Linked DNA regions of Homo sapiens. The protein of the gene in region 1 purifies or fractionates together with the protein of each later gene. This does not show direct contact. Each region holds a gene or a part of one and is shown on either strand. Other genes may lie near its edges.

What was found.
Region 2: the proteins of FAM219A (region 1) and UBR3 purify together in Homo sapiens (affinity purification with mass spectrometry; 3 studies listed by BioGRID and IntAct, with this or other methods). This does not show direct contact.
Region 3: the proteins of FAM219A (region 1) and MTA3 purify together in Homo sapiens (affinity purification with mass spectrometry; 3 studies listed by BioGRID and IntAct, with this or other methods). This does not show direct contact.
Region 4: the proteins of FAM219A (region 1) and NEDD1 purify together in Homo sapiens (co-immunoprecipitation; one large-scale study listed by IntAct). This does not show direct contact.
Region 5: the proteins of FAM219A (region 1) and CTU2 purify together in Homo sapiens (affinity purification with mass spectrometry, with the first as the bait; one large-scale study listed by BioGRID). This does not show direct contact.
Region 6: the proteins of FAM219A (region 1) and MTA1 purify together in Homo sapiens (affinity purification with mass spectrometry; 3 studies listed by BioGRID and IntAct, with this or other methods). This does not show direct contact.
Region 7: the proteins of FAM219A (region 1) and ATE1 purify together in Homo sapiens (affinity purification with mass spectrometry; 3 studies listed by BioGRID and IntAct, with this or other methods). This does not show direct contact.

The regions. Positions count from the first base shown.
Region 1 is NC_000009.12:34,399,571-34,403,070, reverse strand, and holds part of FAM219A (protein FAM219A), read left to right. Parts: intron 1-263; coding exon 264-366; intron 367-603; coding exon 604-684; intron 685-1,350; coding exon 1,351-1,405; intron 1,406-1,948; coding exon 1,949-2,107; 3' UTR 2,108-3,500.
Region 2 is NC_000002.12:169,833,954-169,837,453, forward strand, and holds part of UBR3 (E3 ubiquitin-protein ligase UBR3), read left to right. Parts: intron 1-3,500. UniProt on the Homo sapiens protein: E3 ubiquitin-protein ligase which is a component of the N-end rule pathway. Does not bind to proteins bearing specific N-terminal residues that are destabilizing according to the N-end rule, leading to their ubiquitination and subsequent degradation.
Region 3 is NC_000002.12:42,718,632-42,722,131, forward strand, and holds part of MTA3 (metastasis-associated protein MTA3), read left to right. Parts: intron 1-356; coding exon 357-443; intron 444-3,500. UniProt on the Homo sapiens protein: Acts as a component of the histone deacetylase NuRD complex which participates in the remodeling of chromatin.
Region 4 is NC_000012.12:96,934,757-96,938,256, forward strand, and holds part of NEDD1 (protein NEDD1), read left to right. Parts: intron 1-219; coding exon 220-449; intron 450-1,854; coding exon 1,855-2,056; intron 2,057-2,441; coding exon 2,442-2,637; intron 2,638-3,500. UniProt on the Homo sapiens protein: Required for mitosis progression. Promotes the nucleation of microtubules from the spindle.
Region 5 is NC_000016.10:88,709,503-88,712,699, forward strand, and holds part of CTU2 (cytoplasmic tRNA 2-thiolation protein 2), read left to right. Parts: intron 1-435; coding exon 436-514; intron 515-720; coding exon 721-780; intron 781-2,132; coding exon 2,133-2,193; intron 2,194-2,558; coding exon of another isoform or gene 2,559-2,771; coding exon 2,772-2,881; intron 2,882-3,119; coding exon 3,120-3,197. UniProt on the Homo sapiens protein: Plays a central role in 2-thiolation of mcm(5)S(2)U at tRNA wobble positions of tRNA(Lys), tRNA(Glu) and tRNA(Gln). May act by forming a heterodimer with CTU1/ATPBD3 that ligates sulfur from thiocarboxylated URM1 onto the uridine of tRNAs at wobble position.
Region 6 is NC_000014.9:105,457,827-105,461,326, reverse strand, and holds part of MTA1 (metastasis-associated protein MTA1), read right to left. Parts: intron 3,058-3,500; coding exon 2,955-3,057; intron 970-2,954; coding exon 870-969; intron 563-869; coding exon 374-562; intron 1-373. UniProt on the Homo sapiens protein: Transcriptional coregulator which can act as both a transcriptional corepressor and coactivator. Acts as a component of the histone deacetylase NuRD complex which participates in the remodeling of chromatin.
Region 7 is NC_000010.11:121,739,924-121,743,031, reverse strand, and holds the end of ATE1 (arginyl-tRNA--protein transferase 1), read left to right. Parts: 3' UTR 1-2,608; downstream 2,609-3,108. UniProt on the Homo sapiens protein: Involved in the post-translational conjugation of arginine to the N-terminal aspartate or glutamate of a protein. This arginylation is required for degradation of the protein via the ubiquitin pathway. Does not arginylate cysteine residues.

The DNA.
Region 1 (3,500 bases):
ACACTAACTACCCTAACATGGGAGTTGTGGTTCCTGAAAAACAGGGGGCAGCCTCCTCTTTTTGCCCCCCACTGTCTGCCTCAGGTTGTGCAGGGCCAGGTACTATCTCCACCAAGCAGCAGGGGCCTGGAGTTGGGATCCCTGCCTCAGTCCTTCTAGGAGCAAGTGGTTTCACAGTGGAGGCCCAGCCCAGGCTGCCCTGAGTAGTAAGACAGGGTGGCCTCAGGGGCAGGACACAGCTTCCTTCCCATGTTCTCCTGCAGAGAAGCAGCGGGAGCTGGCCCGGAAGGGCTCCCTGAAGAATGGCAGCATGGGTAGCCCTGTCAACCAGCAACCCAAGAAGAACAATGTCATGGCCCGAACAAGGTAGAGGCCCTCCCTACCCCACCTGGACCCTGCCAGCCAGGACCTATTTCTGCTGGTCCTGAGCCTCCCCCTCTTCCCTCCCTCCTCAGGCCCAGCTCCTCTCTGAGAGGAGACAGCCTTAACAGGATCCAAGGTGGGGAGGGAGGGAAGAAAGTGGTGGGACGGGGCCCAACCCAGTCCCTTGCCAGGTTTCTATGCTCCACTTTGCCACTCTAACTCCCGAAATTCTTCACCTAGGCTGGTCGTCCCCAATAAAGGCTACTCCTCACTTGACCAGAGCCCTGATGAGAAGCCACTGGTAGCCCTTGACACGGACAGGTGTGTATGGGGGCTTGGGGGTAGCTGGGCAGCCCAAAGGAACCTGTATAGCACAAGTGGGCTGTACAGGCCACACCTGCTATATTGTCAGAATTGGGATATTCTTCAGCCAGAATCTCTCCAAGGGTGAATTCTCCAGGGATGGGAATTTTTTTACACCAGGGACTGGGGGTTGAAGAGAGGTGGCAGAGAGAGGAAAGGGGGGCCTGCGTTGTCTGCTGTCATCCTGGGACAACTGATCCAATGGTTGTCCCTAATTGGCCTGTGATGTTGTCTCTGGACAGCAGAATATGATGCTTAATGCCCCATCCCCTCAGGAAGGAGCCCTACTCCCTGGAAAACACCTGGCTAGACTTGGACTTTGGGAATATCCTACAAGTCAGGGTGATTTGAGTCTACAAAAAAAAAAAAAAAGATGAGAAGGGGGTGAAAGGAGTAACTGCTATATTTAGAAGGAGGTTAAGGATAGCAATTGATTTTAAGGGTGGGGCTAGGGAACTTGTCTTTAAAATCCTGCATTTGCACAGCAAGCACAGTTCGTATTGAGATTTTGCTATTTGGAACTGTAAGGGAGGTATAGGATGCTGCCTAATGGGAGGTGGGATTGCAGAGAGTTTTCTATGTAATTTCTTGGTATCACTTTCCCTCTCTTTCCTCCATGGCCAGCGATGATGACTTTGACATGTCTAGATACTCCTCCTCCGGCTACTCCTCTGCTGAGGTGAGCCCCTACCCCTTCTCACCCTAGACACCACCGGGCAGGATCACTGCCATCCCGGGGGAGGGCTGGGGCCAATGCCCAAGTACAAGGAAAAAGAGGGCTGGGCAAGGCTGGGTGGTGCCCTGCACAGGGTGGGCCTGGGATAGGATGGAAGAGAAGTGGTTACTGGCCTCAAGTGCATGGAGCCCAGGGTTAGGAGTGGGGCTTTAGATTGCAGCAGGCCATTTAAATAGAATGGGTGTAAAATACAGGTGATATCCTCTAGTAGCCGGCCTGAGATAGGGGCAAAACCCGAATAGGAGCAGGACCAGAGGTGTGAAGTTGACCATAGAATGGGGAGGGGTGACTAGAAAGAGAGGCCAGAGGCGAAGGAGGGCGCCTAGGCAGGAGCGGGGCCTGGGGGTACAGACAGACCCGGGACAGGGCGGGGCTGATATCCAGGGCACTGGCTGGACTGGGGCGCAGACGGCCTGGAGTGGCCGCAGAGCTGTGGGTGGTGCCTCCCTGCCGCTCGGGCCTGACCTCCCTCCCCTTTGCCTACAGCAGATCAACCAAGATTTGAACATCCAGCTGCTGAAGGACGGCTACCGGTTAGATGAGATCCCCGACGACGAGGACCTAGACCTCATCCCCCCCAAGTCCGTGAACCCCACGTGCATGTGCTGCCAGGCCACGTCCTCCACCGCCTGCCACATTCAGTAGCGGGCGGGGCCACTGCGGTCGCCGGGGCGGGGCCGCCAAGGGCCGGGTAGGACGGGCAGAGGCCGACCCCTTCCCAGCTCGTCTGCCTGCCCCCGGCCCCGCGCCCCTACAGCCGCCAACCTCGTATAACAGTCATTGCTTCCTCCTATGGTAGGACGTGTACCTCTGTGTGTTCATGGAGCTGGAGAAACCAAAACTGGGTCTCTCTCCACCCGGGAGCTGAGGAGGGGTGGGGGCCGTTTGTTCAGTTACCTGGGGGAACCTCACCCAGCACCCTGCCCCGCTTCCCAGGGCTGGCCAAGAGAGAAGACTGGACGGCAGGGAGGTCAACATTAACGAGTGGGGGGATCACAAAGCCAGGGGCTTGGCCCCACCCCAGCGAAGCCATGAACTCCCAAGCCCCGGCCTCAGCCTAACCAGGAAAGGGGCTCGGAGGGAGAAAGGCCCAGGGCAGTGGGGACGGGTCCCAGCACCTCGGAGCCCCCTTCACACGCCCCCTACCGGCCCATGTTTCTATTTGCATTTCCCCCTCCTCAGATGGGAAGCCTGGCAAAGCTGCCCAACCGGGTAGTGCCCCTCACCCATCGGATCACTGCCTTCTTCCTCCTCTTGCCCCATTCACCCGCTTCCTTGCACTCTGGGAGTGGGGCAGGGTAAGGTGGGCCTTACAGACAGGCTGAGGTTTGGGTGGTGTGATCTGTCCTAATTGGCCCCTCACCAATGCATCTATCTGTCTGCCACCAGCCCACCCCACCCTGCCCCCACCCTCACCCACGCTTCTGCTCATTGGTCTCAATCCCAGCCTGGAAGCAGGGAGTAAGGCTGGACTCCAATGGCCCATTCCCCTCACCCCAGCCCAAGACGTGGGAGGCTGCTTCCCAGTAAGAATCCAGGAGCAAGCTTTGGTGAATCCAGTGGGCTGAGTGGCTCTATGGATGTGGTTGTTTGGATGTGGTAGGGAGTGCTTAGCAGAATGTGTGTGTATCTCTGAGGCTGTCAGGGGGTGGGTGGGTGTGTGTCTCTGTTGGACCTGTCTCTCCTCAGTCTATTCCTGTCATAGATGTGGGTGTCCCTGGTAGGGAAGTGCCTGTGTGGTCTGTTTACAGTGCAGAAGGCGGCTCAGCAGTGCAATGGGCTGACAGCCTTGGACCGGGAGTCAGAAGCCTGGGTTCTGGTTGTAGCTCTGGCCCCTCCCTGTGATCTTCAACAAGCCACTTGCTTTCTCTCGTCTTCAGTTTCCTCAACTAGAAAATGAACAGCAGCTGAAATTATGTTGAAGATCCTTTTATACCTGAAAGAGTTTCTTCATAGAAATTTCTGTGGTGGGGAGGGGGCAATCTCTGTGTGTCTCAGTATACCTAAAGGTTGGGGTGGGGCGGAGTTGTGTGTCTCT
Region 2 (3,500 bases), on another chromosome or scaffold:
CTTTTTGTATTTTTTGTAGAGATGGTATTTCACCATGTTGGCCAGGCTGGTCTTGAACTCCTGGCTTCAAGCAGTCTACCTGCCTCAGCCTCCCAAAGAGCTGGGATTATAGGCGTGAGCCACAGTGTGGTGCCTGGCCTGTGTTGTGGGAGGTTTTTAGGTTTTCTGATCTGTGGTAGCCAGAAATTGAACCACGTGAATGTCTGGTTGAATAGTGTTACTCTCTTCAGTAGCTTGCTTTTTTCCCCTTAACATATTTATGGATACTATCTCAAAAGTAGAACTGCTTCATTTTTAAAGTTAAATAGTATTTCATTGTATTTCCATGTTTTTGTAATGTACTATGATTTTTGCGGTCAGTCCCTACTGATAGACATTTAAATTGTTTCCAGACTTGGGCTGTTGTAAACATTGTTGCAGTCAGTATTCTTGTATACACTTGTTCATATGTGTGTGAGCTTATGTATGAGGATACATTCCTAGAAGTTATATCTTGGTTGAAGGAAATTTGCAAATTCAACTTTGATAGAACCCTCCAAAGAAATTAATTTACATTCCTGCCAACAATGTATGAAACAATTTGTTTCCCCATATTCTGGCAGTATATATGGTGGTATCAGTGTTTCTGATCTTTGCTGCTCTCATAAGTGAAAAGTTATATCCCATTTCATCTGTTATCTCCCTGTCCCACTGCTTTTTCGTCCCAGCCAGGACTATTTTGAAGCAAATATCAGATACCTTATAATTTAATTTAAAAATATTTGAGTATGCATCTCAGTAAAGAGATGTGAACTCTAAAACATAACTCAAATGTCCATCAGCAGATGAATGGGTAAGCAATATGTGGAATATACGTACAATGGAATATTTAACCTTAAAAAGTAATAAAATTCTGACACATTAGAATGTTACAATGTAGATAAACCTTGAAGACCTTATGCCAAATGAAATAGGCCCAGCACAAAAGAACAAATGCTTGTATGCTTCGGTCTATATGAAGTGCCCGGAATAGTCAAATTCATACAGACAGAAAGTAGAATAGTGATTATCAGAGGCCAAGGGAAGGGGAGATTGGGGAGTTATTTTTTTAACAGGTACAGAGTTTCAGTTTGGGAAGATGAAAAAGTCCTTGAGATCGATGGTTGTGATGGTTGCAAAACAATGTGAATGTACTTAATGCCACTAAAACTGTACACTTAAGATGTTTTAAATGGTAAATTTTATGTTATTTATATTTTACCACAATTAAAAAATAATGTCAGGTATGGTGGCTCGCACCTGTAGTCCCAGCTACTCCCGAGGCTGAGTTGGGAGTATTGCTTGAGGCTGGGAGTAAGAGGCTGCAGTGGATTATGATCACACCTGGGAATAGTCACTGCACTCCAGCCTCAGCAACATGAAGTGACCTCATCTCTTGAAAAGAAAGCAAAAAACAAACAACTCCCCCAAAACCACAATACCAATACTACACCTAAAATATTCATATTTTGTTTGTTTGTTTGTTTTGATATGGAGTCTCACTCTGTTGCCAGGCTGGAGTGCAGTTGCATGATCTCGGCTCACTGCAACCTCTGCCTCCTGAGTTCAAGCGGTTCTCCTGTCTCAGCCTCCCTAGTAGCAGGGACTACAGGTGCATGCCACCATGCCCAGCTAATTTTTGTATTTTTAGTAGAGGTGGGGTTTCACCATATTGGTCAGGCTGGTCTGGAACTCCTGACCTCAGGCAATCCACCTGCCTTGGCCTCCCAAAGTGCTGGGATTACAGGCGTGAGCCACCGTGCGTGGCCTAATTTTTAAATCATTATAAAACTCAGTTAAAACTATTTTCAATTATGAAACAATTTGAATTTACAGAAAAGTACAAAAGTAGTATAACAGATACCTTTGTACTTACCATTGAGATGAATAGATATTAACCTTTTGCCATGTTTGCTCTAGAGTTGCTTTTAGTCAAAAAACCAAAGAAAGGTCAACCCACCTTTCCCTTTCTCTTTTCCTCTCCAGACGTTAACCATTTTCCTGAAATTCCTGTGTGCACTGTCTCTCTCTCTCTCTCTCTCTCTCTCTCTCTCTCTCTCTCTCTCTCTCTCTATATATATATATATATATATATATTTTTTTTTTTTTTTTTTTTTTTTTTGAGATGGAAACTCGCTCTGTCCCCATCAGACTCAGGCTGGAGTGCAATGGTGCGATCTCGGCTCACTGCAACCTCCGCCTCCTGAGTTCAAGCAATTCTCCTGCCTCAGCCGCCTGAGTAGCTGGGATTACAGGCGGCCGCCACCATGCCTAGCTAATTTTCATATTTTTAGTAGAGATGGGGGTTTCACCATATTGGCCAGGCTGGTCTCGAACTCCTGACCTCCGGTGATCTTCCCGCCTCAGCCTCCCAGAGTGCTGGAATTACAGGCATGGGCTACCACGCCTGGCCCCACCAGGAATTTGAGGTCTTGTTTTTCTGCTTATTGAAACTTGGTGTTAATGAGAACACATGGACACCACGAAGGGAACAACACACACAGGGGCCTGTTGGGTCGGGGGCAGGGAGAGGGAGAGCATCAGAAAAAATAGCTAATGCATGCTGGGCTTCATACCTAGTTGATGAGTTGATAGGTGCAGCAAACCACCACAGCAACCATTTACCTATGTAACCTGTACATCCTGCACATGTAATTCAGAACTTAAAAAAAAAAAAACCAAAAGACACTTGGTGTTATATATATAAATTTATAATATTTTACCAATCTGTTGGATACAAACATCTTTTTAAAATTTATATTTTCTTGACTAGTAAAGTTGAACATCTTTTCATATGTTTTGGGGCCATTTGGGCTTCTTTCTTGGTGAACTGCTGGTTCATATTATTTGCCTGTTTTGTTTTTCTGTTTTACTGAGTTTTAAGAATGCTGTACATACTCTAGATGCTGATCCTTTGTTGTATAAATACTTAATTTCATCTTCTAGTTTGTGTCTTGTCTTTTTACCTTGAAATATATAATTTTGTTGTAAACGATTTTAAATTAAAAATGTAGTTTTTCTTCTACAGTTTGTATTATTTGTATCTTGTTAAAGAAATCTTCTTCACCTTGGTTTAAAAAAATGCTTATATGTTTTCTACTGAAAGATTTAAGGTTTTTCATTGTACACTTAGGTCTTTTGTCCATCTGGAATTTATTTTTACATGTAGTATGAGATTGAGGTCTGTATTAGTCTGTTTTCGCACTGCTATAAAGAACTGCCTGAACGGGCCCGGAGGCTCACGCCTGTAATCCCAGCACTTTGGGAAGCCGAGGCAGGTGAATCACCTGAGGTCGGGAGTTCGAGACCAGCCTGACCAACATGGAGAAACCCCATCTCTACTAAAAATACAAAATTAGCCGGGTGTGGTGGCGTGTGGCTGTAATCCCAGCTTCTCGGGAGGCTGAGGCAAGAGAATTGCTTGAACCTGGGAGGCAGAGGTTGCGGTGAGCCGCGATCACGCCATTGCACTCCAGCCTGGG
Region 3 (3,500 bases), on another chromosome or scaffold:
GTGCACCTGTAATCCCAGATACTCAGGAGGCTGAGGCAGGAGAATTGCTTGAACCCAGGAGGTGGAGGTTGCAGTGAGCTGAGAGCACGCTATTGTACTTCAGCCTGGGTGACAGAGTGAGCCTCCGTCTCAAAATAATACTACTACTAATAATTACATGTTATTTTATGTAAATCCCATTTAGAAATTGGGAACCAGAACTAGAAACCATTTTCTCAAACCCAAAAGGAAATTATGCGGGAATCTGGTGGCTATTTTGTACTGTTTTCCACTTGTACCTTTATTTCTGTGGTGCATGTAGTCTGGCTAGAGAAATCCATTTCATTGGTTATCTCCATGTTTCTTTCTCTCCTCAGATGCAGACAGACATGCTGAACTATCTGGAAGTCCACTGAAAAGCAAAAGCACTAGGAAGCCTTTGGCATGTATCATTGGGTATTTAGGTGGGTATTTTCTAATAGAGGAAAAACTCAAAGAGCAATTTCTGAATAGTATAGATATTTGGCAATTCTAAATGGACATACCTAAACTAATTCAGGCCCTTCAAATAGCCGAAATTGGATACCTTTATATAGTCAGTTTATTTTGTTTCAGAAACTTTTATTACCAGCACACACAACACACACACATACACACACAGATTTATGATATATGTCTACTTTTTCCAAAAAGCCATCGAATAAAAATGTAATATATATTCATGGAAATAAATACAGATTAAGCAAAAAAGAAAATGAAAAGCATTCAGTTAGTACTTAGGATGAATAGTCTTAATATTCTTCTTCAGATCCCTTCCCTGTTTCTAACTCACCTCACCTCTTTTTAAATAGAAGATTTATTTACTTATTAAAATGAGATCAAACTGGTTTATAACTTATCTTAAAATAATTATAGGTTTTAATTTTTTATTTTATTTGTTTTTTGTAGAGACAGGGTCTCGCTTTGTTGCCCAGGCTGGTCTCAAACTCCTGGCCTCAAGCGATCTTCCTGCCTTGACTTCCCAAAGTGCTGGGATTACAGATGTGAGCCACTGCTTCAAGCCTTAAATATTTATAGTTTTGGTGTGCTTTAGGTGACTTTGAAGGGGAGGCATTTGTATTGCTTTCTTATTTTTATCATGCCATCTGACTTGGAAATCTCCAAAGATGATAGCTCCATTTTTATGTTGAAATATCACAATTAAGAATAGTATACAAAATTACTATGCAATAATCTCTTTGTTTAAACAAAGTTTTAAGAGAAATAACTTACAAAATAATGGTTTTTCACATACCTAGAAGCAAGAATGGCATGTTTTTGTGCTTCTCATAGTTCTTTTTCAGTAAAGTGAAATATGTACTCAGAGTTGCTTTGACAGAAAGATTTATAATTATGAAATGTTCAGACTGCAGACATCAACTCTTTTAAAAATCAAAGTGTAGTCTTGAATTTGGTATATTATCTAGTCCTTACCCAAAAGAATGTTCCAGGATTCAGAGGCTCAAAGCTTCTTCTTTGATGTTACTGTACTACCTTATTCCTTGCTTTATTTATTTATTTATTTATTTATTTTATTTATTTATTTTTTTTGAGACGGAATCTCACTCTTCTGTCCAAGCTGGAGTGCAGTGGCGCAATCTCGGCTCACTGCAAGCTCCGCCTCCCAGGTTCACGCCATTCTCCTGCCTCAGCCTCCTGAGTAGGTGGGACTACAGGCATCCGCCACCACGTCCAGCTAATTTTTGTATTTTTAGTAGAGACGGGGTTTCACCTTGTTAGCCAGGAGGGTCTCAATCTCCTGACCTCATGATCCGCCCACCTCGGCCTCCCAGAGTGCTGGGATTACAGGCATGAGCCACTGCGTCCGGCCATTTCTTGCTTTATTTCTCAGGGGTTAAAGAGTTGTTTTGATATCCCCTGAAAATGTCACATGGTTATTGTACACATGACCTACGTAATGGTGGTAATGTCCTTGAAGAGTGCGGTCTGTATTCCCTTGCAGAACTGTCTCCAGATGCCCCTTCCCACCTTGCATGGGAAAGTTTCTGATCACAAAAAATAGAATAGGCCGGGCATGGTGGCTCATGCCTGTAATCCCAGTACTTTGAGAGGCAGGCGGATTGCTTGAGTCCAGGAGTTTGAGCCTGGGTAACATAGCAAAACCCTGTCTCTACCAAAAATACAAATATTAGGCAGGTGTGGTGGTGCGTGCCTGTGGTCCCAACTACTCAGGAGACTGAGGTGGGAGGATTGACCGCTTGAGCCCAGGAGGCAGAGGTTGCAGTGAGCCAAGATTGTGCCACCACACTCCAGTCCAAGTGACCAATTGAGACCCTGTCTCAAAAAAAAAAAAAAAAAAAAAAAGAAAAGAAAAGAAAAAAAGAATATAACATTATTAGCCTTTCCAAGAATAATTGTGTGCTCCTACTGTGGGCAAATTGGTCTCTATATCTACCAGATAGGCCCAGACTGTGCTGTTCTTACCAGCTGAACCACATCCCTACACAATATATTTATGAGTATTTATATGTTGAAAACACTGTACTAAGTGATTTGGGGAACACCAAGATGGGTAAGACCTTGCCCTCAAAATTCTTAGTGTAGTGGGGAAAGCAAGCAGGTAAGAACAATAAAACAAAGGATTAGATCCTGTAAAATAATTACAGGTAATATGCGTTGGGCACTTGGAGGAAGGACTGTTCTTTTTCTTTTTCTTTTTCTTTTTTTTTTTTTTTGAGATAGAGTCTCACTCTGTCACCCAGGCTGGAATACAATGTCTCCATCTTGGCTCACTGCAACCTCCACTTCCCAGGCTCAGGTGATCCTCCCACTTAAGCCTCCTGAATGGCTGGGACTACAGGTGTGCACCACCACACTTGGCTAATTTTTAAAAATTTTTGTAGAGACAGGGTTTCACCATGTTGCTCAGGCTGGTCTCGAACTCCTGGACTCATGCAGTCTGCCCACCTTGGCCTCCCAAAGTACTGGGATTACGGATGTGAGCCACTGCACCTGGCCAATGAGGGAATTTTTTCTAATGAGCGTTAGGGCAGCCTACCTGAAGAAAGTAATAGTTAATTTCAGCCTTAAAAGATATTTAGGATTCGAATAGGTAGAAAAATAGGAAAAGCGTATTCTCTTCCCTCATAAGGCCAAGACAACCAGATGAACAAAGGCTTCAGTGAGTCCAAGGACTTGAAAGCAGCTTGTTTGGTCTAGATGGAGCATAGACTGTGGAGGTTAAATGAAATGCAAGGCTGGCAAACTTGTCATGTCATGTTGGAGAAAAAAAAATCACTTTTTTCGGTGGTAGTATTTAAGCCATTTCTAAATTTTGGCAAGTGTGGGACTTTGACCAGAGCTGTAGTAATTCTAACAATTCCAATGGCTTTTCCTAAATTCCAGTAAATAAGGGTGATATCTCAGCCCTTACCTTCAGTGAAAGGGTGAGAAGGCAGGGTGGCTTGTGTGTAGTTGGCCAGCTGCATGATGACTCTGAGAATCAGTGAGCTGCTAAGCTT
Region 4 (3,500 bases), on another chromosome or scaffold:
TGAACGCCTGACCTCAGATGATCCACCTGCCTCGGCCTCCCAAAGTGCTGGGATTACAGGCGTGAGCCACCACGTCTGGCTGAAACCTGTCACTCTTACACATCAGAGAAATCCTAAACCCCATGTGAATAGTGTGGTTGGCCATAATTTATATGGCTTATATCAAATGTCCTTATGAATGCTTATAATTACATAAAATTTATTCTTTCATTTTTATAGTCTGTTCGGCACTTGAAGTACTCCTTGTTTAAGAAATCACTACTGGGCAGTGTTTCGGATAATGGAATAGTAACTCTCTGGGATGTAAATAGTCAGAGTCCATACCATAACTTTGACAGTGTACACAAAGCTCCAGCGTCAGGCATCTGTTTTTCTCCTGTCAATGAATTGCTCTTTGTAACCATAGGCTTGGATAAAAGAATCATCCTCTATGACACTTCAAGTAAGAAGTAAGTGTGACATGCTTATTTCTTAATTTAGTAACAAATAGCTATTATTCCATTAACAGGCATATTTGTGATTTATATAGACCTCTGATTAGTGTCCAGGGGTCCTAAAGTTTGTACAGTTGATGGATCTAGTAAGAAAGAATTTTCTTCTTATGCAGAAAGAAATAGATGGGTTGCAGGTAGTATTTAGGGTACTTCTGAAACATGAACATAGAGAGATGACATCTTAATGATTTCACATTTTAATTTTAGCATCTTTTCCACAATATGATAAAATGCATATGTTTTTAACCCAAATGATTAATTTGCTTTAAAACTGATTAATTATCTAGAGGAAGGTTTAGAAACGATTGACATTTTGGGCTGGGTAATTCTTTGTTGTGAGGGGCTGTCCTGGGTATTGTAGGATATTCATCAGCATCCCTGGCCTCTGCTTACTAAATACCAATGGCCTAAATTGTGTCCAGACATTGTCAGATGTCCCCTGGTAGTAACCAGGGACAACCTGGGAGCACCCACTTGAGAAATACTGATTATGTACTGGTGTACATAATCCTCTAAGCATTTGGGCCCACTGTACCCTCTTCTTGTTAAATTTAGGTATGCTTAGTTAGCTAAAAAACAAAAACAAAAACAAAAGAATGCAAGAGTGATACAGTTGTATTCAAGATGCTTACCACTGTCTGTAGATCATGTGGAGTATGAATGTTACTACAAGGGAAGGTCCCACTGTCAGCCTTTATTATGATGCTAGAATTTTTACTGTTAGGACTTATTTGCTGTCTTCTTTTATGGAACAATTTACTGAGAGCCCAGTAAGCCATTCTTCTTTTCTACTATACACACCAGTAAAGAGCTCAGCTTCAGCAGATCACCATCCGTATTTCTTTATTAGCTTCCTAAGGATCAAGCATGTGAACTGTGTTCCTCTTAGCTTTTTGGCCAAGACTGTACAACTAAGAACAAAGTAACAGCTGCTCCCCTGTGAAAGGTCATAGTCCTCATGAGGCCTAAGCAGGTCAATAAATGGAAAGTGGATACTTAGGCCCTCCTCAACCATGAGGCCAGAGCCCCTGTTTGTGGCGTAATAGACAGTTCTGCTACATTCACTGTCAGAGTAATAATTAAAGAAATAGGTGCTGCTTCTATAAGATGCAGAATGTACCTATTGGAAGTGAATAGAAAAGTAAGATGGAATGTTTAGCAGTTCTCTATATGCCATTTTATTAGAAATGTCTCTAAGTCAAATTCTGAAATTATGCTTTAAACAAATATTTGGGATATGTGTGCTCTTTGACCAGTTTGAAGTGTTAATAACTCTGGTTTTGGTATATAGTTACTTATATAAGCTAATATACCTGTACACACTAACATTTCTACACATACTTTGTTCTCCTTTCCAAAGGCTAGTGAAAACTTTAGTGGCTGACACTCCTCTAACTGCGGTAGATTTCATGCCTGATGGAGCCACTTTGGCTATTGGATCTTCCCGGGGGAAAATATATCAATATGATTTAAGAATGTTGAAATCACCAGTTAAGACCATCAGTGCTCACAAGACATCTGTGCAGTGTATAGCATTTCAGTACTCCACTGTTCTTACTAAGGTGAGACATTTTCTTTTCAGCATTTTTTATTTTATTAAATAAATCTAACTCAGAATATGGAAATTATATGTGGTCAATTAAACAGTATAGTTTTGTTTCATAATTACATAATGATTTTACATGTAATGTATAATAATTTTAGTACAAAGCCATTTGATATTTAGTTTTAAAACTTTTTTTCTTTTTTTTTTCTCCTTATATATCTCTCTTTTTAAAAGTATTTTAAAAGACATTTTAATTTAGAGGGAAACTCAGGTCTGCCAGCAAGCTTAAGATTTGCAAGGAAAAAAATATATTTTTTAATCTAACAGGGAATTTATAAAATATTAATGTATAGTATGAAACATTAGTAACCTGAGCTTTTAAATATTCCATTACATTTCAGTCAAGTTTAAATAAAGGCTGTTCAAATAAGCCCACAACAGTGAACAAACGAAGTGTTAATGTGAATGCTGCTAGTGGAGGAGTTCAGAATTCCGGAATTGTCAGAGAAGCACCTGCCACGTCCATTGCCACAGTTCTACCACAACCTATGACATCAGCTATGGGGAAAGGAACAGTTGCTGTTCAAGAAAAAGCAGGTAAATGTTGCTTATATATTGTTGGAGGGTTGGTTTGTTTTTTTTTTGTTTTTTTGTTTTTGGCTTGCATATAATTAGCACATTCTTCAAGAACATAGAACTCAAATTTATTTGAGTACTTAGGTAAAATTAGTAGAAGTGAAAATCATTGAAGAAGTGAAAATAGTAACTTTGGCTATTAATTTCAAAAATGATAAAAGGCCCTTATTGTTTAGCTAAACTTCTCTTGTGAGAAATATTGTCTTAAAAATGGAAGGAGGCTAACTCAGAAATTATTCATCCTTAATACTACTAAAGACTGAATGGCTTTTCATTGTGTCTTCAGATTAACCAGTAGAAAATATGAAACTTTGACACTGTCTTATGATTTGATCTCATTAAATAAAAATAAATGAGAATGTTGCAATTTCTAATGATTTCTTCTTCTCTCATGTAATTGGCGAAACAGTTCTGAAACAGGATTCATTTAGACTTTATTGATGTGTTATATGATAAGCTTTCTCTTATTGTAGAAAATATTTCTTGCTCACAATAAAAAAATATTCTGTAAATTCCTGAAAACCTTTTCATTTTTATTTTAAGAAGTTATGCTATACTGTCAACGTGCAACAAATACTTTAGAAAGTCTACATGGTATACTAGTATGTTTCTGAAATATTGTGCTTAGTAGAAATACATATATCCATGTCTTTTAAATTTTTCAGGATAAATACTTGGGCAAAAATATTTATTGGTGTTTTTTTTTAGCATGATTTTGCTATTTCCAAGTAGAAGCAAAACTTTAATTTGTTGATCTTGATAGTGTGGAGTAGTATTTTAAAGTAAGTATATTCACTATAAATTTCCTGTGAATATCTGTATCA
Region 5 (3,197 bases), on another chromosome or scaffold:
GCTGTGGCCCGCTCCATTTCCACGTTTCACCTCCAAGAGGTGGTGTCTGTATGTGGTGGGTCTTTTTTTATGGGGTCTGGGTTGGCCTTGCCCTGTACGTGCCTAAGTCTGTCCACTCCACCAGCTGGGCCCTTCTGAGCGCCTGTGGGGAGGGGTGCCGGGGCTCTGCCCTCGTTTGCTGGATGCAGCCTCCGTGGCTGTGCAGTTTGTACCTGGTCGTGGGAGGGGCCGGTGAGCCTCGTGTTCACCCTGAGGAAGCCACTGCCAGAGGGGCCAACCCCGCCCCTTTCACCAGTCTCTGGACAGAGCCTGGATGTGAAGATGCTGCTTTTAAAGATGGAGATTGGCAAAGGACGTCGTCACCTGGCAGCGCCTCAGGACGCTGCTCACTGTGCGGGTAGCAGGCGGTTCCCTCATCTCAGGTCTGTGTTGCAGGGACTGTTTCAAGGCCTTCTACGTCCACAAGTTCAGAGCCATGCTGGGCAAGAACCGGCTCATCTTTCCAGGCGAGAAGGTAGCGTCTGGGTCCTGGGGGTCTGACTGAGCAGCCTGGCCCCTCGAGGTCCCTGCTTGTCCCTCCCACAGGCAGCCTGGCCTGCTGCAGCCCGCCAGCTCCTCCTTGGCCTTTGAGGACAGACTCGATGTCCTAGATGTCCACGAGGTGGGGTGTCTGCCTGTGTTGGAGGTGCGGTGCCCTGAGTGATGTTTTTTCTCCCCCAGGTGCTCTTGGCGTGGTCTGGGGGGCCTTCGTCCAGCTCCATGGTCTGGCAGGTTCTTGAGGTGCGTGTTCACCACCCCGTGGGCCCGGGCTGCTGGGCTGAGCTTCAGGCTGGGGGCCTCCCTTCTCAGCCTGCTGAGGGGCTCTTGGTTGGGGCTAGAGAGCAGTCCACCCTGCGGCCTGGACACTTGGGGGGTTCTCAGATGTGTTCACAACAGGTGCACCAATCAGGAGCTGAGTCCACAGTGTGTGTGTGCGGCCCACTCTCAGATGTGTTTACAGCAGGTGCACAAATCAGAAGCTGGGTCCACAGCGCGTGTGTGCGGCCCACTCTCAGATGTGTTTACAGCAGGTGCACAAATCAGAAGCTGGGTCCACAGTGCGTGTGTGCGGCCCACTCTCAGATGTGTTTACAGCAGGTGCACCAATCAGAAGCTGGGTCCAGAGTGCGTGTGTGCGGCCCACTTGACTTCTGTCCATTTGCTCAACCTGCGTAGAAACACAGTCAGTGGAAAGCTGCATCTTGGCTCAGCCATGTGTGACCCGAGGGAAGATTGGGAAAGGGGCGGGGGTTTGCCAGGAGAAGCAAAGGGAGCAGCGTTTGAGGTGGAGGCGGCGGCCCGCGCAGGGAGGTGGAGGCGGGCTTAGGCTGCACACAGGGCTCGGCTGGGGGTGGTGGGGCTGTGCCCGTGGCCTGTCAAGGGTCAGCTCAGGAAGTCTGAGGCAGGTCGGGCTTCTCAGGAGGGCACAGGAGCGGGATGTGCTTGGTTTCTCTGCACTCTCATGAGAGGTGCAGACCGGAGGAGGCTGTTTCTGTGGGCTGGGTGGTTGAGAGGAGAGGGGTCGGCTTTGCCGGGTTGAGGAGTGGGGTGTTGGTCTCAGGATGGGCGCATGGCACAACACTGCTGAAATTAGTTTTCTGTTTTCTGAGGTCCCCTGAACCTGCCAGGAGGGTGTTGTGAGGGAACTGGCCCAGCCCTCTGTGTAACGCTGGTGCTGCCCTTCCTGTGCCCAGCGGCGCCCCTGCCTCTTGCAGGCTGTTGGTTTCTGCTTGTGAGAGCAAGTGCTTCCTTAGTGGTCAGAAGCGTGTGGGATGGTGGCACAGTGGCCCCGTAACCCAGCCCCCTCTCCTGGGGCGTTGTTGGGACATCCAGGACCAGCTGGTGAGGGGCATGTTTTACCAGGGGGATGAAGACCCCCAGGCTACCCTTTAAAATAAGTCGGGCGTGCGGCCTCGCCTACTGGGCCTGCCCGGCACCTGAGTCTGAATGGCTTTGTCCAATAAACGCAATGGCAGGGGAAGACCACTTCACCTTCCAAGATGGCATTAAATCCAGATGAAGAATGTTCTGAGCTGGAAAAGTGTCCTGTGGCTTATGGCTGGGGGCTGAGTCCCTGCTGCTTCTCCCTCTAGGGCCTGAGCCAAGATTCTGCCAAAAGACTGCGCTTTGTGGCAGGAGTCATCTTTGTTGACGGTATGTGGGGCCATTGCTCCTCCTAGTCCCTGGCCACTTGGGGTAAGCCCTGCGGATCCTCCCTCTGGTGTGGACCCTCCCTCTGGTGCCGGTCCTCCCTCTGGTAGGATGTGTTGAGCTACTGGTGCTGCCCCTGCACTGAGGGCCTGGTGGGGACATCTCCCTGAAGGAGGCAGCAGATGTATCCATCGTTAGGTGGCATCACTGTTCCTGGAATCTAAGAACATCCTTAGAAAGTCGGGGGTGGGAGCAGGAGTGGCGGCTGCCCAGCCCCCATCACGGGGTCTGGGGACAAAGAAGGGCAAGTTAAGTGCTGATGGTGAGCGGGGGCCCAGGGGCCGACTCCCCGACCCTTGCTCCTGCAGAACGAACTCCTGGGGTGTTGACTGTAGCGCTGAGGTCAGCCGCAAGAGAGAAACCCCTGCCCAAAGGAAAATGGCCGACACCCCACAGCTCCGCCAGGAAGCACCGCCCTGCGGAGCGAGGCCTCGAAGGGTTTTCCCAGGTGGAGGTGGCCCTGCAGCCTGCCCTGCCTGGCTCCTCTCTGAGCCCTGACTCTTTCTGCCTGGGTTTTTCAGAGGGAGCAGCCTGTGGCCAGAGCCTAGAGGAGAGATCAAAGACCCTGGCCGAAGTGAAGCCCATTCTGCAAGCAACTGGGTTCCCATGGCATGTGGTGGCCTTAGAGGAGGTGGGAGGGCTGTCCCTGGAAAGGGGTCCCGGAGGTGACCCCTGGGGGGCACCTGCCCGTGTCCCAGCCTCACTGGCCTCTCCCTCATCCCAGAAGGCGGGGCTGTCGGTGGGGGGTGGGAGGCACCTGCCCGTGCCCCAGCCTCACTGCCGTCTCCCGCATCCCGGAAGGTGGGGCTGTCTGTGGGGGGCACCTGCCCGTGTCCCGGGCCTCACTGGCGTCTCCCTCATCCCGGAAGGTGTTCAGCCTGCCACCGTCGGTGCTTTGGTGCTCTGCCCAGGAGCTGGTGGGATCCGAGGGGGCCTACAAGGCGGCC
Region 6 (3,500 bases), on another chromosome or scaffold:
AGCTTAGTCAAAAACAAAGCAAAACCAAGCCTGGGGCTGGAGGGGGCAGCAAGGAAGGGAAAGTCTCCGTGAGGATACCCTGGCCTCCGTCACCTGGGCCAACCCTTATCCTCATCACGCAATGGTGGCAGGAGCATGGCTCTCTATGCCCAGGCCCCACCAGCGCCCCCATGCCTGTCTGCTGAACCAGTGTGACAGGAAGGACTATGGCGGCCGAGCGCAGCTGAGACAGAACTCATGCAGCTCCGCACAGGGAATCAGGGTGCAGGACAGGCTCCCTCAGGGCAGAGTGGGATGTGGAGCCCACACCCCCGCAGCCTACCTGGAGATGGGCATGGCCAGCCACTCCCCCATCGCCACCCACGGTACTCACAAAATCTTGCTGAATGTCCGTGAAATCCTTCCCATATTTTTCCAGGGCTTCCTCGAAAAGGTTGGCCTCTGATGCAGACCACTCCTCCATCTCGTCCCTGCAGAGCACGGGCCCGCCCTGCGGCACCAGCGCCGAGATGGCCTTGGAGATGTCGTAGATGTTCTTGTGGAGAGTATCCATGGCGTGGAACTGCGGCAGGAGACAGCAGGGTCACCCGGGCCAAGGTGGCTTTTCCTGCACCTGTGGCACGGTACCCCCTCCCTCAGTACCTCAAGGATCCCCTACTGCAGGCCCAGCAGCACAACCCTCCCTGCACCCTCAGCACAGTCTGGCCGAGTTTGGGGTGGATAGGAAAGGCCAGTCCAGGTGGGACAGCACCTCTGCAGGGGTCCTGAATACCTGGGGCAGGTGCTGGGCCCTGGTAGGAAGAAGGGCGCAGCCACTCTGGGCCATGGGCCACCCCAGGTCTCACCTGTCCCGCCCTGGGCCCACTTACCAGGGTGATGTCTCGGGAGGCAGCTGCGGCGCTCATGTGCAGGCTGGGCTGTCGGACGGAGCTGCTGCAGTCCAGGGCCCGTGCGAAGGTGCCCACAGAGCTGGGGAAAGGAGATGCGCTGACCACAGTGTCGGCCAAGCAGGGACTCCCCACAGGCACACCGCTCCCCAGGCGCCAGGGACCAGCGGCCACGGGCAGCACGGACTCCCCCAAGGCACACCACTCCCCAGGTGCCAGGGACCAGGGGCCATGGGCAGCACGGACTTCCCCCAGGCACACCACTCCCCAGGTGCCAGGGACCAGGGGCCATGGGCAGCACGGACTTCCCCCAGGCACACAGCTCCCCAGGTGCCAGGGACCAGGGGCCATGGGCAGCACGGACTTCCCCCACGCACACCGCTCCCCAGGTGCCAGGGACCAGGGGCCATGGGCAGCACGGACTTCCCCCAGGCACACAGCTCCCCAGGTGCCAGGGACCAGGGGCCATGGGCAGCACGGACTTCCCCCAGGCACACAGCTCCCCAGGCGCCAGGGACCAGGGGCCACGGGCAGCACGGACTCCCCCCAGGCACACAGCTCCCCAGGCGCCAGGGACCAGGGGCCATGGGCAGCACGGACTCCCCCCAGGCACACAGCTCCCCAGGGACCAGGGACCAGGGGCCACGGGCAGCACGGACTCCCCCCAGGCACACAGCTCCCCAGGGACCAGGGACCAGGGGCCATGGGCAGCACGGACTGCCCCCAGGCACACAGCTCCCCAGGCGCCAGGGACCAGGGGCCATGGGCAGCACGGACTCCCCCCAGGCACACAGCTCCCCAGGGACCAGGGACCAGGGGCCACGGGCAGCGCGGACTCCCCCCAGGCACACAGCTCCCCAGGTGCCAGGGACCAGGGGCCATGGGCAGCACGGACTGCCCCCAGGCACACAGCTCCCCAGGCGCCAGGGACCAGGGGCCACGGGCAGCACGGACTCCCCCCAGGCACACAGCTCCCCAGGGACCAGGGACCAGGGGCCATGGGCAGCACGGACTCCCCCCAGGCACACAGCTCCCCAGGCGCCAGGGACCAGGGGCCATGGGCAGCACGGACTCCCCCCAGGCACACAGCTCCCCAGGGACCAGGGACCAGGGGCCACGGGCAGCACGGACTCCCCCCAGGCACACAGCTCCCCAGGGACCAGGGACCAGGGGCCATGGGCAGCACGGACTGCCCCCAGGCACACAGCTCCCCAGGCGCCAGGGACCAGGGGCCATGGGCAGCACGGACTCCCCCCAGGCACACAGCTCCCTAGGGACCAGGGACCAGGGGCCACGGGCAGCGCGGACTCCCCCCAGGCACACAGCTCCCCAGGTGCCAGGGACCAGGGGCCATGGGCAGCACGGACTCCCCCCAGGCACACAGCTCCCCAGGGACCAGGGACCAGGGGCCACGGGCAGCGCGGACTCCCCCCAGGCACACAGCTCCCCAGGCGCCAGGGACCAGGGACAGACTGCATGAGCATCGCAGGGAGCAGCCCGCAGGTGGCGAGGACTCCTCGTGTCCTGGGCCCCAGGCTGCGGAGTAGGGCCCGGCACCCACCCCAGAACCCGTGTGCGTCTAACTGAGGGCATCCCGATAGATTGGCAGCCGCCTTGGGGCTTCTTTTGGGGTTTTCTCCACCTCCCAGGCTGCTGGCAGGGAAGGTGCATGGTCCTCTCCTGGGCCTCGGCCTTCGCCCTGCCCCAGGGGTCTGCCCGGGCTGCAGCTGCTCTGCTCCATGACCAGGCCCAGCCCACTTGCTCCCAGTGGCCCAGGAGTGGGAAAGCACCTCTGGCCCATCCTGGGAAAGCCCCATTAGGGACACATGGGCAGGCACACAGGCCTGCCCCCCAGAAGGGCCGCCCTTCTATTTAATGAAGGGCCTGGACCCAGCACTCCCGAGCCTCTCTGGGAACTGCTACCGGGGGTCTCAGGGCTGCAGCGCATGGGCTTCTTGTTGGGATATGGGATCCAAGACTGTCACGTCCCCAACACCCACCACAGGGAAGGGAGAACAGAAGCTCCAGGCACCACCCCTGCTGGCCTTGCCCAGGAGCAGGACTCACCGGGCCACCACCAGGAACTGGTCGATCTGCTTGTCTGTGAGTGGGTTGTGCGCCTCCCACACCTGGGTCTCCAACCTGGACTGGTCTCGGCCATCCTCCTCGCCTACAGGGAGGAAGTGTGGCCTTTCTGAGACGGGGTCCCACGGCGCGCCGGGCCGCGCCTCTCCTCCCCGGGTGCGGGGAGCTGCTGGGACGGGGAGGGGGAAGGGCTGCAGGGCCCCATAGGTGAGGCCAGGGTGCAAGGCTGGACGGAGGCTGTTGCACACACAGGCACACAGTGGCCTCTCAACCCGGGGCTGGGGTGCACACGCAAGGGGCCTCCCAGCCCACCCAGAATGCAGGGCTCCAAGAACTGTGGCCACAAGAGATGGGAAGGTTGGTTTGTAAATTTAAATCAAGCCTTTTTATTTATTTATTTATATTATTATTATTATTATTATTATTTTTTGAGACGGAGTCTCACTCTGTCGCCCAGGCTGGAATACAGTGGTACGATCTTGGCTCACTACAACCTCCGCCTCCCAGGTTCAAGCGATTCTCCTGCCT
Region 7 (3,108 bases), on another chromosome or scaffold:
AGAATATAGTACTCCCTTTTACTCTAAAAAATATCCCAGTTTGGACAATAAAATACATAATTACTCTAGTTATATTATTTGCTTTACTTCTAAAAATGTAAGAAATTGAATTTTTTTAAAGAAAAATGTTGGTTCCTGCCTTGATCTAAGTCTCATCCAAAGGAAATAAATAGTCACTAGTTTTTTATCTTACAACTCAGGACATTTGTCTTTGGTTATTAATGGAAATTAGTATGTGATTACTTTCATAGTTATGCCACAAATCACATTGAAGAAGGAATCATTCCGACCTCTGTTCCAGGACAAGAGCTAGAACAATCCATTTCTTGTCCTTTGATTTGAGAGTCACAGTCAGGGTGGCTTCTGCCACCCTTAGTAACTCAGAGCAGAGGCCAGCCCCCTCCTTCCCTCACTTTCTTTTGCTGAGTCCTTTGCCCACCTGTCAAGGTGGCAGGCACTGTGCTGGGTACAGGAGGACAGTCAGACATGTCCCTTCTTAGCTATAGTCGAGCTGTCTGGGAAACAGGATGAAAAACAGGAGGGTTATTTTCTTGTGCCCTCTTTGTCAGCTGATCCCCTCTTCTGCTACCAGCTATTTGGCCAGCAAGCCGTTTTTAGTCCCCACTTTGCCCATTTTTCTGTTTTGGTTCATCGTTTCTTAAAAGCCATGTTATAAAACATGGTAGTTTGAATCCTGTTGCTAATTTTAAACTTTCCTCTAAAATGTACTGAATTTTGACAAAAATTTGAAAATATCCTCAGCTAACTAGAATAAAAAGGATCATAAAACAATGATTTTAAAACTGAAATCTCTAGAAACTCAACATCCAAGTCAGCCGCATTTCTTCATTCAGAGTGTGTGTGTCACACCTGCCAAGGTGCTGCGTACTCTGCTAACCGAGCTAGAGTAGTGAGCAAAGCCATTTTCTCTGATCACAAGATTTTACATTTTTCTGGGATTTTGACCTGCAAAGTAGTCTCGTAAGAGCATTTGAGAGACTTACTTGGAACTGCCTTCAGAATCTATAGAGCCTTTTTTCTCTTTTTCCTCTAAAATGAAAAGAGCTTCATTTTATGATTATAACAAAAGTGACACTGTAAGCAGTTAGAACATTAAGAAGTATAAATAAAAAGTAAAAATCATCTACAACCCTACCATACTCAGAAGGAGAAAAGAACTGTCATGTATGTATACACACATACCTATGTAATTTTAATATAAATAGAATTATGTTCTACATGCTGTTTTATTTCCTCAACAGTAAATTATGGACATGTCTGAAATGTGAAATAAATTTCAAAATAAGGCTTCAGAAAGTGTAGTAAGTAATCTCTGCATTATTAAAAATAAGCAGGGTAGGGCTGGTACTTGGCTCGCTTAGCATTTGAATGTCCAACTTGGTGTTATCACTGTATCTTCCCTCCATTTGTCTTTGTGATTAGCATGTAAAATGGTATTCATAAAGATCACAACCCTTGAATATCAGATGAAGAGAAAACTTGACTCCAACATCTTACCACAACTCTGGTTTCTTCCTGCAGAATTCATTTTCAGAGGAAAATGATGAATCATCCCTGTCTGTGAACCACTGTGCTTTCCTTGAGGGTGGCATTGTAGGTTGACACCAGCAAAGACTCAGAGTGACTTGAGCATTGGAGATCCTTCTACTTGGCTGCTGTATTCATGCATTATGTTGGTTTGAGAATAGCTAGTGTATTGATCCAAGTAGTCAAAGTGTCTTAAAAGGACACCTATTTGTCCTTTTGAGCCCCAGCTGAGTGAATACTGATAGTGGACTAGAAAAGCATAGTCAAGAAAAGTGACCCACCTTGTTACTTGACCAGCAGTCTAGCTGAGAGATCTGATTTTATGTTCGTAACTTTCTGTAAAGAAAGACACAAGGACTTTTCAAAGACAGTTTATATCTTTCCAAGGCAGGAAGCTTTGCATTTGCAATCTTAGTGTTGTGTCCCTTTCTGATTTTCAAATACATCACACCTGCCTTCCTGTTTTGGGAGCAAAGATGTAATTTCAATTCCCCTTGCTACCGTCCTTATTTAAATTATTTCCATTCTAAGAGATTTTTGTTATTTTTTTAAATGTAATCTGAGCACTTTTTTGTATTCTAAAAGATAGATGATATCAGATAAATATGTTGTACATTTGATTAAAATTATTTAGATAAATATTACTATGTTGACTTTTAAATAGCTTTATCCTATTTTTCATTCATTTTGCAAATATTTGTTGTGTGTAGTTTCTTAACGTGTCAGAATCTATTATGTAAAAGAACCTTTCCAGATTTCTGAACAGTATATGCTTTGATTTTATAGGCTTTATATTATTTCAGTATGAATAAAGATAAGGAATATGAAACAGTTAACTAAAATGTATCTGTCGTTGCTAACTTGAAAAATGAAGTAGAAACAGTTGGAAAATGTTTGAATTAGAAGTTATTCAAGTGCACACTCTTTTCTAAAAGAAAGCCAATGACTATAAGGCAAAAGAAGTTTGACTGCATGTGGTATTTTTTGCTCTTGTATATGCTTTTTGAACAAGCTATTTGATAAAGCCTGAATGGAAAAAATAAAGCTGTTTCTATCTGCAGTGGCTCTTGGTGGTCATTACTTAAAAGACATATGTTTTCATCTTTAAATTCCTGAACACATTTCACCTGCTGTGAATATGTAGAAAACAGAGGTAAAACATTGGCTATATGAGTCATAAAATTTAATTTTCACTAAATGGAGTTCCAGACCATGTGGTTATCTAAATCAAAGTACGGTGGATTCCTTTCTCAGAGAGTAAAGTAAATCCCATTTTAAGCCAGAAGTCTGGATTTTCACAAGATAAATTAGGGAATAGACTTTTATAACCCAAAGGGATTCAAAATAGGACTTTATCAAATTCAAATATAATTTATCTTAGAACGTTTACAGAGAAATTTTAAAAAATATAAAGTGTGCTTTAATTGTTCATAATAGTCTGTGGTATATTTATGCAATACATTTACTAGTGTTTTATCTCTTTACAGTAAAGAGGGTCCTGGTAGGTTGGTGATAAAATGAATCCTATTTCCAAGTGATTTAAATATTAGTTACAATTCC